3 linked regions of the Homo sapiens genome follow. The protein of the gene in region 1 interacts with the protein of each later gene in a pairwise test. Each region holds a gene or a part of one and is shown in the gene's direction. Other genes may lie near its edges.

Evidence for each region. The genes of interacting proteins can lie anywhere in the genome.
Region 2: the proteins of COPRS (region 1) and H4C4 interact in binary tests that used the Homo sapiens proteins (3 or more experiments, as listed by UniProt).
Region 3: the proteins of COPRS (region 1) and H4C12 interact in binary tests that used the Homo sapiens proteins (3 or more experiments, as listed by UniProt).

What each region holds. Positions count from the first base shown.
Region 1 is NC_000017.11:31,851,371-31,856,287, reverse strand, and holds the end of COPRS (coordinator of PRMT5 and differentiation stimulator), read left to right. Parts: intron 1-3,257; coding exon 3,258-3,476; intron 3,477-3,979; coding exon 3,980-4,149; 3' UTR 4,150-4,417; downstream 4,418-4,917. UniProt on the Homo sapiens protein: Histone-binding protein required for histone H4 methyltransferase activity of PRMT5.
Region 2 is NC_000006.12:26,188,187-26,193,205, reverse strand, and holds H4C4 (histone H4), read left to right. Parts: upstream 1-4,093; 5' UTR 4,094-4,129; coding exon 4,130-4,441; 3' UTR 4,442-4,496; downstream 4,497-5,019. UniProt on the Homo sapiens protein: Core component of nucleosome. Nucleosomes wrap and compact DNA into chromatin, limiting DNA accessibility to the cellular machineries which require DNA as a template.
Region 3 is NC_000006.12:27,830,651-27,836,176, reverse strand, and holds H4C12 (histone H4), read left to right. Parts: upstream 1-4,616; 5' UTR 4,617-4,649; coding exon 4,650-4,961; 3' UTR 4,962-5,003; downstream 5,004-5,526. UniProt on the Homo sapiens protein: Core component of nucleosome. Nucleosomes wrap and compact DNA into chromatin, limiting DNA accessibility to the cellular machineries which require DNA as a template.

The sequences.
Region 1 (4,917 bases):
TGTCAGCTCACCGCAACCTCCGCTTCCCAGGTTAAAGCAATTCTCCTGCCTCAGCCTCCCGAGTAGCTGGAACTACAGGCACGCGCCACCACACCCAGCTAACTTTTGTATTTTTAGTAGCTATGGGGTTTTACTATGTTGGCCAGGCTGGTCTCGAACTCCTGATCTCAAGTGATCTGCCCACCTAGGCCTCCCAAAGTGCTGGGATTACTGTGAGCCCACGCTCCCAAAGTGCTGGGATTACAAAGGCATGAGCCACTGTGCCCAGCCCCCTGCCGTTTTTTTTTTTTTTTGAGAGGGAGTTTTGCTCTTGTTGCCCAGGCTGGAGTGCAATGGCACAATCTTGGCTCACTGCAACCTCTGCCTCCTGGATTCAAGCATTCTCCTACCTCAGCCTCCCAAGTAGCTGGATTACAGGCATATGCCACCATGCCCAGCTAATTTTTGTATTTTTAGTAGAGATGGGGTTTCACCATGTTAGCCAGGCTGGTCTCGAACTCCTGACCTCACCTGATCCATCTGCCTCAGCCTCTCAGAGTGCTGGGATTACAGGTGTGAGCTACCACGCTTGGCCCCTTTTTTTCTTTTTCTTTTTTTTTTTTGAGATGGAGTCTCACTCTGTCACCCAGGCTGGAGTGCAGTGTCGCAATCTTGGCTCACTGCAACCTCTGTCTCCCGGGTTCAAGTGATTCTCGTGCCTCAGCCTCCTGAGTAGCTGGGATTACAGGCGTGCACCATATCGCCTGGCTAATTTTTGTATTTATTTATTTATTTATTTATTTATTTTTTGAGACGGAGTCTCGCTCTGTCTCCCAGGCAGTGGCACTATCTCGGCTCACTGCAAACTCTGCCCCCTGGGTTCACACCATTCTCCTGCCTCAGCCTCCCGAGTAGCTGGGACCACAGGCACCCGCCACCACGCCTGGCTAATTTTTTGTGTTTTTAGTAGAGATAGGATTTTACCTTGTTAGGATGGTCTCGATCTCCTGACCTCGTGATCTGCCCTCCTTGGCCACCCAAAGTGCTGGGATTACAGGCGTGAGCCACTGCTCCCGGCCTAATTTTTGTATTTTTAGTGGAGAGGGGCTTTCACCATGTTGGCCAGGCTGGTCTCAAACTCCTGACCTCAGGTGATCCGCCCACCTCGGCCTCCCAAAGTGCTGGGATTACAGGCATGAGCCACCGTGCCTGGCCTTTTTTTTTCTTTTAACTCTCACAACAACCCTATCTTCATTTTACAGATGTGGAAGTTGAGGCACAGAACAGTTAAATAAAAACAATTTAAAAATTGTGGTAAAAGATGCATAACCTAAATTTACCATGTAACCATTTTAACGCATATAATTCAGTAGCCTTTTAGCACAATGGCAGTGTTGTGCAACCATCACCACTACCTAGTTCCAGAATCTTTTCATCACCCTAAAAGGAAACCCTGTGCTCACCAAGTAGTCATTCTCCATTCCTTCCTTCTCTGAGCTCTTGGCAACCACTAATTTGCTTTCTGTCTCTGTGGGTTTATCTGTTCTGGATAGGCAAATGTGAGTTGCCTGTAAAGGGAATCATAACAATATGTGGCCTTTTGTGTCTGGCTTCTTCCACTTAGCGTATTTTCAAGGTGCATCCATGCCGTAGCATGTATCAGCACTGCATTCCTTTTTATGGCTGAATAATTCCATCATATGCATATACCACATTTTGTTTTTCCATTCATCCATTGATGGACATTTGATGTTGTGTCTACCTTTTGGTGATTGTAAATAGTGCTGCTGTGAGTATCCTTGTTTTATTTGAACAGCTGTTTTCAGTTCTTTTGGGTATATGTTTAGGACTGGGATTGCTGGGTCATATGGTAATTCTATATTTATGTTATGGAACTAGTTAAGTAAATTTCAGCTCAATCACACTTTTTTTTTTTTTTTTTTTTTTTTTTTTGGAGACAGGGTCTCACTCTGTGCAATGGCACGATCTTGGCTCACTGCAGCCTCCACCTCCCAGGTTCAAGCGATCCTCCCACCTCAGCCTCTTGAGTAGCTGGGATTACAGGTGCATGCCACTGCACCCAGCTAAATTTTTTGAATTTTTTGTAGAGACAGGGTTTGCGACATTGTTCAGGCTGGCCTTGAACTCCTGAGCTCAAGCAGTCCACCCACCTTGGCCTCCCAAAGTGCTAGGTTTACAAGGGTGAGCTACCGTGCCCGGCCCAGTCCGATGTTTGGTAATTGACAAAACACGGATTTGAAATCAGACAGTCTGGCTTTAGACCCCTTGCTCTGAACTATCACTTTATTGCTTATCACTGTTACTGTTGTTCCAGTATTAAGAGCATGGCTGTTTTAGGCTGATTGCCTTCTCTCCTGGGACCTGGCATCACCAAAGCACTATGTGCTCGGAAATCCATTATCTTTCCCCAGTCTTTCCTCCGTTATTGTGAGGCCTTTTGAAAATGTACCTTCCGGCCTCCCTGATGTCAGAGGGAGGCACTAGGTGCTGCCCATTGTGATTAGATGGGTTCTGGTCTTCTGCCTGCAGTGCCCCTGCTCCCCTTTGTCCCTGTGCTCACCTCTAACATGCTCTTTGAGGCTGAAGGGAGGAATAAAAGAGCAAAAACAACCGGGCACAGTGGCTTACGCCTGTAATCCCAGCACTTTGGGAGGCCGAGGCGGGTGGATCACAAGGTCAGGGGTTCAAGACCAGCCTGGCCAAGATGGTGAAACCCCGTCTCTACTAAAAATACAAAAAAATTAGCTGGGCGTGGTGGCGGGCGCTTGTAATCCCAGCTGCTCAGGAGGCTGAGGCAGAGAATTGCTTGAACCTGGGAGGTAGAGGTTGCAGTGAGCCGAGATGGTGCCATTGCATTCCAGCCTGGGCGACAGAGCGAGACTCTGTCTCAAAAAAAAAAAAAAAAGAGCAAAAACTTAATTCAGGCTTGTATTGTGAAAGTGTATTATTTATCAGAGGCCCTTTGCCTCAGTGACATACAAACCACCTGAAAATGTTAACTGTCCCTAGCCCTCTTTGTAAATTAAAGGACCTGACAATTAATGCCTTGTATAAGACAAAACGTCTTATTGAAAATAAATTATCAGCTCTTTTAAAAACATACAAAGAAGTGCATTTTTAAAAAAGTGCTCGGTGGCTAAAGAAGACTCTGTGCACTTGTTTTACTACCTTCGTAGTAAGTCTGCCCAAAATTTACTGAGCACAGAGCAGGTCCTCTTTGGTTTGTCACTAAGGCCATCTTCTCTTTGTCAATTTAGCCCGTGGAACACAGAGCATTCCTAATGACAGTCCTGCCCGGGGTGAGGGCACCCATTCTGAAGAGGAAGGCTTTGCCATGGATGAGGAGGACTCTGATGGAGAACTGAATACCTGGGAGCTGTCAGAAGGGACAAACTGTCCACCCAAGGAACAGCCTGGCGATCTTTTTAATGAGGACTGGGACTCGGAGTTGAAAGCAGATCAAGGGAATCCATATGGTAGGTGTGGAGTCTCTGGGGGTCCTGAACTAGGCCTTCTCAGACACACCTGTCAGACCAGCCCTGAAGGCAGTTTGGAACAGGGGTCCACATCTATGAGCTTAGGCTGGTATCTGTTACAGGTCTCCAATTTCTGTGACACCTTCTCTTTTATATTGAAAAAATCCAAATTTTGCATTTGACTCCATAATGTATCACTGTTTTAAAGTCAAAACTGTTACTCTCTCCAAAAATCTCTGCTATGAATTGAGCAGCTGCAGATAGAAGTGCTGTGTTATCCAGTTTGCTTCTTCACTGCTAAGAACCCTTGTCTGAGAAGCATAGCTTCTCAGCTGTTCCGAATGAACGCATTTACAATTCTTCAGGAAAGGAGAACTGTGTGTGTTTTTAAACAAAATAAGTGCAAGGATCTGTCCCCTAGACATACCTTTTTGGCTGTCCGTTTTTACCTTCCTTCCTTCCCTCCTTCCTTCCCTTAATCTGTCTTTTAAAACTGCCTGCAGATGCTGACGACATCCAGGAGAGCATTTCTCAAGAGCTTAAACCTTGGGTGTGCTGTGCCCCACAAGGAGACATGATCTATGACCCCAGCTGGCACCATCCGCCTCCACTGATACCCTATTATTCCAAGATGGTCTTTGAAACAGGACAGTTTGACGATGCTGAAGATTGAGTGTGGAGCTTTCTGCCTTGTAGGTGGGCGGGCCTCCACGTCAAGATCTCTTTTCCTGTCTTGGAGGTGAAAAGTCATATCTGAGAAAATGTTTGCAGTGACCCCTAGTCTGGGGTACACAGACCAGTGTTCCTTATTGACAGTGTTCAATAAGGCCCCGTCATTCTCGCCAGTCTGTTGTTGTTCTTAATGGGCTCCTCCTTGAAATGTGTGTGTGTTTGTGTCAAGAGGAGTTGTGTTCTTTGTAAATAAAGGTTAAAAAGAGAAACCAGTATGCTTCGTCTGCTTTTTTCCCATTTATTTATTTATGGAGACAGTCTCACTGTGTCACGCAGGCTGGAGTGCAGCAGCGCGAACTTGGCTCGTTGGAACCTCCACCTCCTGGGTTTAAGCGATTTTTGTGCCTCAGCCTCCTGAGTAGCTGGGACTATAGGTGCTCGCCACCACACCCGGCTAATTTTTTGTATTTTTAGTAGAGATGGGGTTTCACCACGTTGGCCAGGCTGTTCTCAAATTCCTGGCCTCAAGTAATCCACCCGCCTTGGCCTCCCAAAGTGCTGGGATTACAGGTGTGAGCCACCGTGCCCAGCCTTCACTACTTCATTTAAAGTCCCTGAATGACATTTTAAAGATTCAAACGCTTGGAGGCTTAAAACTACTCTGTGAAAGAAAAAAAATTTTAGTTTTGCTTCTGTAGATCTAGCACTGTTGACCAAGGATTGGAATCCAGGAGACACTGGTGATTTTGTAGCTGATTGTTTTCCTGTT
Region 2 (5,019 bases), on another chromosome or scaffold:
CTTAGCAGCTATGTGATCTTGGTCTAATTATATTACCTTGCAGAGTATCTTTTTTCAGTTTTTTTCTTCTTTTTTTCTCTCTCCCCCACCCTGTTTTAAACTTCAAACTAATCTAATGACATACTTTGAAATTTTTATATTTTTCATTCCCCATCTCTCAAAATAGATGAGATCTCTCTCTGTTTTGAATTCTTACATTGATGTCTTTCTTTTTTTTCTCTTTTTGAGATGGACTCTCACTCCGTTGCCCAGCCTGGAGTGCAGTGGCGTGATCTTGGCTCACTGCAACCTCCGTCTCCCAGGTTCAAGCGATTCTTCTGCCTCAGCCTCCTGAGTAGCTAGGACTACAGGCGCGCGCCACCACGCCCAGCTAATTTTTGTATTTTTAGTAGACACTAGTGACAGGGTTTCACTGTATTGGCCAGGCTGATCTCTAACTCCTGACCCTGTGATGTGCCCGCCTCCGCCTCCCACAGTGCTGCAACTAGAGGCATGAGCCACGGCACCAGGCCCCCTACATCGATTTCGTAAAAGGCCATTATAATCTGTCTCGTATTATCTGCATACTTGTCCACTTTTAAATCTTCCTAGTAGTTTACAAACATCTAAAAGTACAGATTAGTATTATAGTACGGCATACAAATATTTATGTAAAAAAACTTGCAGAAATGCATATAGGGAATTGTGTGGAACCAGAACATAACTCAAGTGTCCTTAACTTTCCATTTCTTTATTTTGCCTTTATGGCTACTCCCCAAATGATTGTTTTCTGCAGCAGTATGCCCTGTGCAGTATTGTTGACATAGTAGTGCTTGACTCTTGTTTTTCATTTTAAACTGAATAACTAGGTGAGACATTATACACCACTGAGGATGCAGATCAATTATAAAATAGGTAACTTGCTCAAGTTTTCACCATTTAGCTCTGAGTGGCCCATACTATGCCTCTCCTTCTAAGAAGGATTTTATTTTATTTATTTACTTATTTATTTATTGAGATGGAGTCTCACTCTGTCGCCCAGGCTGGAGTGCAGTGGTGCAATCTTGGCTCACTGCAACCTCTGCCTTCCGGGTTCAAGTGATTCTTGTGCCTCAGCCTCCCATGTAGCTGGGATTACAAGAGCATGCCACCATGCCCAGCTAATGTTTGTATTTTTAGTAGTGTCAGGGTTTCTCCATGTTACCCAGGCTGCTCTTGAACTGGGCTCAAGTGATCCACCAGCCTTGGCTTCCCAAAGTGCTAGGATTACAGGCGTGAGCCACCGCACCCGGCCAGAATAATATTTATTTATTTATTTATTTTTGAGATGGAATTTCACTCGTCACCCAGGCTGGATTACAGTGACTTAATCTTGTCTCACTATAACTTCTGCCTCCCAGGTTCAAGCAATTCTCTTGCCTCAGTCTCCCAAGTAGCTGGGATTACAGGTATGCACCACCATTCCCAGCTAATTTTTGTATTTTTAGTAGAGACGCGGTTTCACCACGTTGCCAGGCTGGTCTCGACCTCTTGACCTCAGGTGATCCACCCACCTCGGCCTCCCAAAGTGCTGGGATGACAGGCATGAGCCACCATGCCCCGCGCAGAATAGTGGTTTTAAATGCATTAGATAATATATAGGAATGCAAAGTGAAACAATTATATTAGTATGCCATTATCAAATTATAAAAAATCTAAATTGGTGAAATATTAACATATGTGCTTTTAAATTTTTTATTTTATTTACTTACTGATTTTGAGACAGAGTCTCACTGTTGCCCAGGCTGGAGTGCAATGGTACGATCTTGGCTCAGTGCATCCTCTGCTTCTCAGGTTCAAGCGATTAGCTACCCAAGTAGCTGTGCGCCACCATGCCTGATAAATTTTTGCATTTTTAGTAGAGACATGGTTTTGCCATGTTGGCTAGACTGGTCTGGAACTCCTGGCCTCAAGTGATCCTCCCATCTGGGCCTTTCAAAGAGCTGGGAGTTACAGGCATAAGCCATGGCCTGGCATATGTCCTTTTTAAATTAATACATTAAATAATAATCTACCCATATGACTAAGACTTATTATAGTTTTGAAGGATTGAGGTTTTTTTTTGTTTTTTTGTTTTTTTTTTGAGATGGAGTCTTGCTGTTTTGCCCAGGCTGGAGTGCAGTGGCACGATCTCTGCTCACTGCAAGTTCCACCTCCCAGGTTCACGCCATTCTCCTGTCTCAACCTCCTGAGTAGCTGGGACTACAGGTGCCCGCCACCATGTCCGGCTAATTTTTTTGTATTTTTAGTAGAGATGGGGTTTCACTGTGTTAGCCAGGATTGTCTCCATCTCCTGACCTCGTGATCCTCCCGCCTTTGCCTCCCAAAGTGCTGGGATTACAGGCGTGAGCCACTGCACCCGGCTTTAGGATTGAGATTTTTAAATGAAATTTCGAGATATTGGCAATGAGAATGTGATATAAATAGAAGCACTTGTCCTGCCAATTACACTGTTTGTTGCCTGAGTTCATACACAGAAAAAATGCTGTTTCTGTTGGAGAATAGTAAAAAGAAAAAAAAAAGATTTGACTTTTTTTTTTTCTATACTCATTCCCAGATCCCCTGAAGACTTTCTATGTATCCCAGGCTAAGAACCTTACTCTGCAATCTTTTCCATGTACCATAAACTCAATAAACAGCAAACAGCTGTGATAAACTTGGTTCTTCTCACAAGTCATGAAGGAAAAGCCAAATATTCCACCCAAAGGACCTGGAACTTTTTATGGGGATTAATGATGAGTTAAGTTTTTAATTATTTATTATTTTGAGGAGTTCTCGAAATCAGATTTTAGCAAATTAGAATACTGTCTCTCATCCCTTTAGAAGGGTGAACCTTAAGGATAGGAATTGAAAACACCCACAATATTGTACTATACCATAATTAATGTTTAGTCATTGCTTATTTGGAATCTAGACACTATTCTAAGCATTTTGATAGGATTATCTGTTTCAACTTAACAAATACTTACAAGTTAGATTTTTAAAAATACATTTACAACAAGGAAACTTAGTATAGCTTGCCCAGGGTCACCCCCACAGCATGTATGTCAAGCAGGCTGTCTCTATGATAGTTTGGAGGGATACTATGATGCCAATTTGCTGGAGTAATAGAATATGGTGAATGATGCAGTGCTAGCTACAATCTGTCCATGATTAAAGGCACAATCAAAGCATAAATTTTCATAAATTTCAGCCCAACAAGGTTTTCTTTTACGGGTGTACATAGTCATGTTTTCAATCGGCCCTCGGTGATCTTATCCTAATTTGACCTCTAAATGTGTAACTTTCATATACTTTTAGTTCCCTCAGTAGCACTATCTAGCCTGCATGCCAAAGAGCCCTGCTTGGTTAACTAGGAATGCATAAATCAATAAAAATAATCTCAGAGACAATAAAGATATGAGTTACTTAAAATACTTTGAAAGCACCTTATGGCCCGGCGCGGTGGCTCACGCCTGTAATCCTAGCACTTTGGGAGGCCGAGGCAGGTGGATCACAAGGTCAGGAGTTCGAGACCATCCTGGCCTATGGTGAAACCCCGTCTCTACTAAAAAAATACCAAAATTAGCTGGGCATGGTGGCGGGCGCCTGTAACCCCAGCTACTCGGGAGGCTGAGGCAGGAGAATTGCTTGAATCCGGGAGGCAGAGGATGCAGTGAGCCTAGATCGTGCCACTGCATTCCAGCCTGGGCAACAGAGCAAGAACCCGTCTCAAAAAAAAAAAAAAAAAAAAAAAAAAAAAGCACCCTGTGAGGGAAACAGTACTAATTATTTGATATTCTGGGAAAAGTGGGGGACAATTGTCAGGCTTCTTTGTCGAAAGTTTATGAACTGATGGCTCAGTTAATGGCTGCAAGTATAGTGTGTGTGTATATATATATATATACCTAGCAGTATTTATTAAATCCCAGCTGAGGCTCTTTTGTTGCCTCAGGCCCCTCTTGGTCTCCTCCAGTCTGAGCAAGGGAGAATTGCACAGAAGGGCGGGAACTGACTGTGGTTCCCGCCCCTTCTCATGAGGTTTTCAAACAGGTCCGTCATGCTATTATAAAAGTGCTGCGTGGCTCTGCCAGACGTATTGCGTTACAGATTTAACAGCTGTGGTTTCAAGATGTCTGGCCGCGGTAAGGGCGGAAAGGGTCTAGGTAAGGGTGGCGCCAAGCGTCACCGTAAGGTATTGCGTGACAATATCCAAGGAATCACCAAGCCCGCTATCCGCCGCCTGGCTCGCCGCGGCGGCGTCAAGCGTATTTCTGGCCTCATTTATGAGGAAACTCGCGGAGTGCTGAAAGTTTTCCTGGAAAATGTAATCCGCGATGCTGTCACCTACACGGAACACGCCAAACGCAAGACAGTCACAGCCATGGACGTGGTGTACGCGCTCAAGCGCCAGGGACGCACTCTTTATGGCTTCGGCGGCTGAGCTTACCTCTACAGTACACTACCGCAAAACCAACGGCCCTTTTCAGGGCCACCTATCCACTCAGGAGAAAGAGTAGTAGTCACTGCTAAAAGTGTAGTTTCACGTGTTTAGTAGCTCCGGTTTTCAAGTTAAATGGTCTTATTACGCCTTGGCTTCATATCTTACTGGCCGGTGAGGATAGTGTATTAAAGTTTATTTTCACTCTTGCTGTGTCGCCCATGCTGGAGTAATCAATGGCGCGATCTCGGCAATCTGCAGTCTCCGCCTCCCGGGTTCAAACGATTCTTGTGCCTCAGCCTCTTGCGTAGCTGGGGCAACCGGCTTGCGCCACCAACACCCGGCTAATCTTTGTATTTTTTGCAGCGATGGGTTTTCGCCATGTTTCCCAGGCTGGTCTTGAACTCAAGCTCAAAAGAGATTTCCCTCCTCCGCCTCCGAAAGTGCTGGGATTACAGGCGTGAGCCACCACGCTTGGCCTGTGTTTTCTGTATTTCTGTAAGGAAACATGGCAAACTGCTGCTAACATTCTTCATGGCTATCAGAGAAACAAGGTAGCAAAGACTGTAGCTGCTGGAGAA
Region 3 (5,526 bases), on another chromosome or scaffold:
CTGTTTTCCTCATACAGACATGTTAATGAAAATGAATTTCTACAGGATCTCCAGTCCATTGAAATACATTAATTTTTGAGTCTCTTCACACATTTTTATTTCCTAGATTTAAGTCTTGATTGCAATCACATACAACTAGTATTTCTTGGAATAAAACAGCAATCACAAAAATCATAAATATCACATTGTTTAAAAAAATTTATTATTTGATGTTGAGGACTCCATCCTGATTTCAATGAATTAATTCATTTGTTCCCTTTTAAAATGTCATCTGTGTTATTTATGTGTATAAATTTTCAATAATTGTTTCTCAATATAGAGTAAATGATACAGCTCCATAGAAGGCCTGTAAGATTTTTGAAATTAAAATAAGTTTTTAAATAAAATATGCTGTTATGATCATTGAAGTTGATAATAAAATTATTCCATTGATTCTGTTTCTCCCAAGAACCACCATTTAATCATGAAAGCTAGCTAAGTAATATTTTTCAGAGTTCGTGAGTTCCAGAAGTAAAATTCTTTAAGCTAAACAGCTTGTAAAGTAACTTTTGCTTTATAATTATTATAATTTTGGGTGTTATTTATGCAAACTCAAATCAATGTACTCATAATCAAAACATTGACATGCAAACTTATGTATTAAGCAAAATAAAATATACAAGTGTGATATATCATTGTTTATAATTCCACATACACATGTAAAGGAAAATGGAGGAGCTGTTAAATGAGTAGCTTCACAGTAAGTAAACTAGAGGAGGCAACCTAAAGATCAGAGAGATCCAAGGGGCAAGGAGCAATTAGGAACATTTATAGTGCCTTATCACTTCATGGTATTATATCATCTGTGAAATATTGAATTAAATGAATGTCCTTACTGATTTGATGCCCTCTGAAGGTTTGTTGAAAAATCAGACATGAGGTAGATTAATAGAAAAAAAGGCAGACAAATTTACAATGTGCATGGGGAGAATCAGTGATTGCCCACCCCAGAACGTGGTTCAGAAGTTTATATACCATCCTTGAAAAACAGTTTGAGGGAGGGAGAAGAGGAATTCATTTGAGGGGATTACTAGGAAGAATGAATGGATCAGGGAAAAGAAATTAAACTTGTACCTTATCTTGTGAAATGAGCTGTTCGGGTGTGATTACATTCGTCTTACAGGGACTCATTTTTGGTGAGTCCAGATAACAGGAAGACAAAGGTTGGGGAGTGGGAGAAGGTCAAAGAGACTTTGAGGCTTCTGCAGTTCAGCTTGTCACCATGCCATAGTTTGGGGTATTGGTTTCTGAGCCCCGACATTGACAATATGTACTAAAAATAAATATTTGTTATTTAAATTAACTACTTAATGTGTTATACATAATTAGATAAATTGATGTATTAACATATTTAAAGTATAATATAAACAAAATATTTGTAAATTAGTTGTAAAGAAAAAAATTACGTATATTAAATAGAGGTTGGCTTTCTGCTTAATATTTTACATACATTATCTCCATTGTTTTATTTTTTTAATTTTTTTTATTTTTTAGATGAAGGTCTTGTGATGTTGCCCAGGCTGATCTCTGACTCCTGAGCTTGCACAATCCTCCCACTCCTGAACACATGCAATCCCCCCACCTCAGCCTCCAGAGTAGCTGGGACTACAGGCAGGCTACTGAGACTGGCCTCCATTAATTCTTACAGTACCTCAAAGAGGTAAATACTGTAGGGGCTAAGGGAAGTTTCATAGAAAATCAACTGACAAAAGACAGAATAATGGGAGAAATGGCACAGAAATTTAATAATGTGCACGAGGGAGAATTACAAAGTGATTACCCCAGTCCCTAAAGGAGTACAGAAGCTTATGTAACTTTTTTCATAGGGGAAGGAGGAGATGGGAAAGGTAGACAATTCCTTTGAGGGGCAATAAAGGCTTGTTATGGAAAATAAATGGGCCACAGAAAGAAATTAGCTTGTAAATGATTGTCTTCATAATTTATTTATTTATTTTGAGATGGGGTCTTAATCCGTCTCCCAGGCTGTCACCCAGGCTGGAGTGCAGTGGCACAGTCTCCACTCACTGCAACCTCCACCTCTGGGATTCAAGTGATCCTCCTACCTCAGGCTCCCTAGTAGCTGCGACCACAGGCATGCACCACTACAACTGGCTAATTTTTTTTTTTTTCAGACAGAGTTTCACTCTTGTTGCCCAGGTTGGAGTGCAATGGTGCAATCTCGGCTCACTGCAACCTCCGCCTCCCAGGTTCAAGTGATTCTCCTGCCTCAGCCTCCCAAGTAGCTGGGATTACAGGCATGTGACACCACCTGGCTAATTTTTTGTATATTTTGTAGAGACAGGGATTCGCCATGTTGGCCAGGCTGGTCTCGAACTCCTGAGCTCAAGGGATCCACCTGCCTCGACCTCCCACAGTGCTGGGATTAGTGGGAGGAGCCACAGCACCTAGTATGTCTTGGTAATTTAAATGAGACCGAGAGGCAGACATTATCTTGAAAAATCCATATTCAGTATTCTTTTCTGCAATAATGAAATAACAGGGAGGGGATAGAAGGCAATTGTTACTTCTGGTAAGAAATTTTCTTGGTCCGATTAGGAAATGTCAGAGTCCCTTCGCATGTATGGGAAAGAAGACGAAGTTAGAGGGGCTTTGATTCTGAAGCTTATTTCTGAGGCCTTTCAATGTTCAAAAGCGCTCAGCATGCCCAAGAACCACATTTTGGGGAATCATTCTGCACCCCAACAGTACCGTCACTATCCTATTCTAACTTTGTAGATGAGCAAAGATTTAAAAAGAATAAACAAGTCACCTCGTGTCTGATCGGTAACAAGTCAGCTCGAGTCTGAAAGGTAAACATTTAATCTAAAACCAAAGTTTTCTATTTCCAGAGTTTCAACTCTTAACTACTTTCTAAACAAAGAATTGAATACTAAGAGATTATATTAGAATAGTTATAGGAGTTTTATAATTTTCATTGATGTTAAAATAATTTCAGAGTGGCCGAGCGCAGTGGCTCAAGCCTGTAATCCCAGCACATTGGGAGGCCGAGGCATATGGATCACGAGGTCGGGAGTTGGAGACTAGCCTGGCCAACATGGTGAAACCCCGTCTCTACTAAAGATACAAAAAAATTAGCCGGGCGTGGTGGTGAGTGCCTGTAATCCCAGCTACTCAGGGGAGGCTGAGGTGGGAGAATCGCTTGAACCCGGGAGGTGGAGGTTGCAGTGAGCCAAGATTGGGCCATTGCACTCCAGCCTGAGCGAAAGGGCGAGACTCCGTCTCCACAAAAAAAAAAAAAAAAAAAAAAATTCAGAGTATAACCCTGTATTTATTAATAAGAAAGAAAATCAAATATACGGAATCAAAGTTGCTCCATAATGGTTGATAACAAATCTTTAGTTGGGTCATATAAAAGTGTCTTTTTAAAAACCTACAAGCGTCCAAGCGAAGCGGCTCACGCCTGTAATCCCAGCACTTTGGGAGGCTGAGGCGGGCGGATCACGATGTCAAGAGATCAAGAGCATCCTGTCCAACATGGTGAAACTTGTTCTTTACTAAAAATACAAAAAATTAGCTGGGCGTGGTGGCGCATGCCTGTAGTCCGCGCTAATCCGGAGGTTGAGGCATGAGAATCGCTTGAACCCGGGAGGTGGAGGTTGCAGTGAGCCGAGATTGCACCACTGCCCTCCGGCCTGACGACAGAGCGAGACTCCTTCCAAAAAAAAAAAAAAACCCCACACACAAAACCTACAAACACCAATTTTCTAGTTATAAGAGCTTGTTTTAAGGATTTTAATTCTATTCCAATTAAGTCCTAAAGCTAATGCAATTATCAAAATCTCGAAGAGATTTTATTCAAACTTCACAAAAGGTCTCTAAAGTTGTCCAGAAACCTTGGTGAAACAGATTAGGAAATTTGGAAAGGAAATAATGCGGAGACCCGTAGTACCAAATCATGAGACCTCTAATACAATTTTAAATATTAATGTAATAAAATTTAAATTTTGGTGTAATAAAATCATAAATTTCAATATTGGTCCCAAGTATAGAGAAAAAGTACATTTATGTTGAATGTGGAAAACATTATTTTTAAAATACAGCCGATTAAAAAATTGCTGGGGAACTGATTATAACTATTGATAATTCCTAAGAAACATAGACACCAAAACATCACTTTTATCTCTTTAATAGAAATTGGTTAAATTATAATCAATATAAGGAGGTTACAAAACTCCATATACAACACTGTATACATTTTCTTGGAAAAATATGTGCAACTGCTCTGCAAAATACATGATTAACTAGCCTGTGTGATGGGATAACATTGTAGTTTCTTAATTTCTTGTCCTTTCTTGTATTTCCCACAGTATTGATGTATATCTTCTGCGTTCAAAAGCAATTTTTTAAAGCCTCATAACGTGGTAACAAAATACTATGCACGTTACAAAATTCAGAACACGGAAACAAGAAGCTCGCTTTTTTTTTCCCCCTATTTCGGTTTGGCCCTTTAGATTTCCCCTCCCCCACCGGGGCGGGACTTCCCGCCGACTTCTTTCAGGTTCTCAGTTCGGTCCGCCAACTGTCGTATAAAGGCGCTGCCTCAGGCCAGAGTCCTCACAAAGCGTTGGGTGAGACTCCTCTTGCTCGTCATGTCTGGCCGCGGCAAAGGCGGGAAGGGTCTTGGCAAAGGCGGCGCTAAGCGCCACCGTAAAGTACTGCGCGACAATATCCAGGGCATCACCAAGCCGGCCATCCGGCGCCTTGCTCGCCGCGGCGGCGTGAAGCGCATCTCCGGCCTCATCTACGAGGAGACTCGCGGGGTGCTGAAGGTGTTCCTGGAGAACGTGATCCGGGACGCCGTGACCTATACAGAGCACGCCAAGCGCAAGACGGTCACCGCCATGGATGTGGTCTACGCGCTCAAGCGCCAGGGCCGCACCCTCTACGGTTTCGGTGGTTGAGCGTCCCTTTCTATCAACAAAAGGCCCTTTTTAGGGCCCCCACTTTCTCAGCTGAGGAGCCGTGATGCTTGTTTGCCCAGTTTCTCTTTACCATTTGTTCGCGCCTGCTGAGTTTGTGCTGCTATCGGAGCATGCGTCTCTAGTCGCTGTAAGTAGGCATCAGTCACTAATCGCTCTCCAGTAAATAAAATACCCAACACAACTTGTTTCAGGTGCTCCAGAGCTTACTGACATGGGCCGTCGCGCAGACTGTAGTGCAGTGTCATCATGGCTCACTGTAGCCTCCCGATTAGCCGGAACCTCGCGCCCACCACCACGCAAGGCTAATTATTTTTCCAAAGACCGGGTCTCCGTGTGTTTCCCAGGCTAGTTTCGATATCCTGGCCTCAATCCCCTCGCCTATGCCTAATGTTGGTATTACAGTAGTGAGCCACCACGCCTGGCCACGATACTGTTGAGGTTTTAGGGTTAGTTACATTTAAGGGGCAATTTTCGCAGTGTAGTGGGGAGGAAAGTCAAGCAGTTATAGGTTTCTGGCGCTGTGAATCCAACTGCTGAACATAGC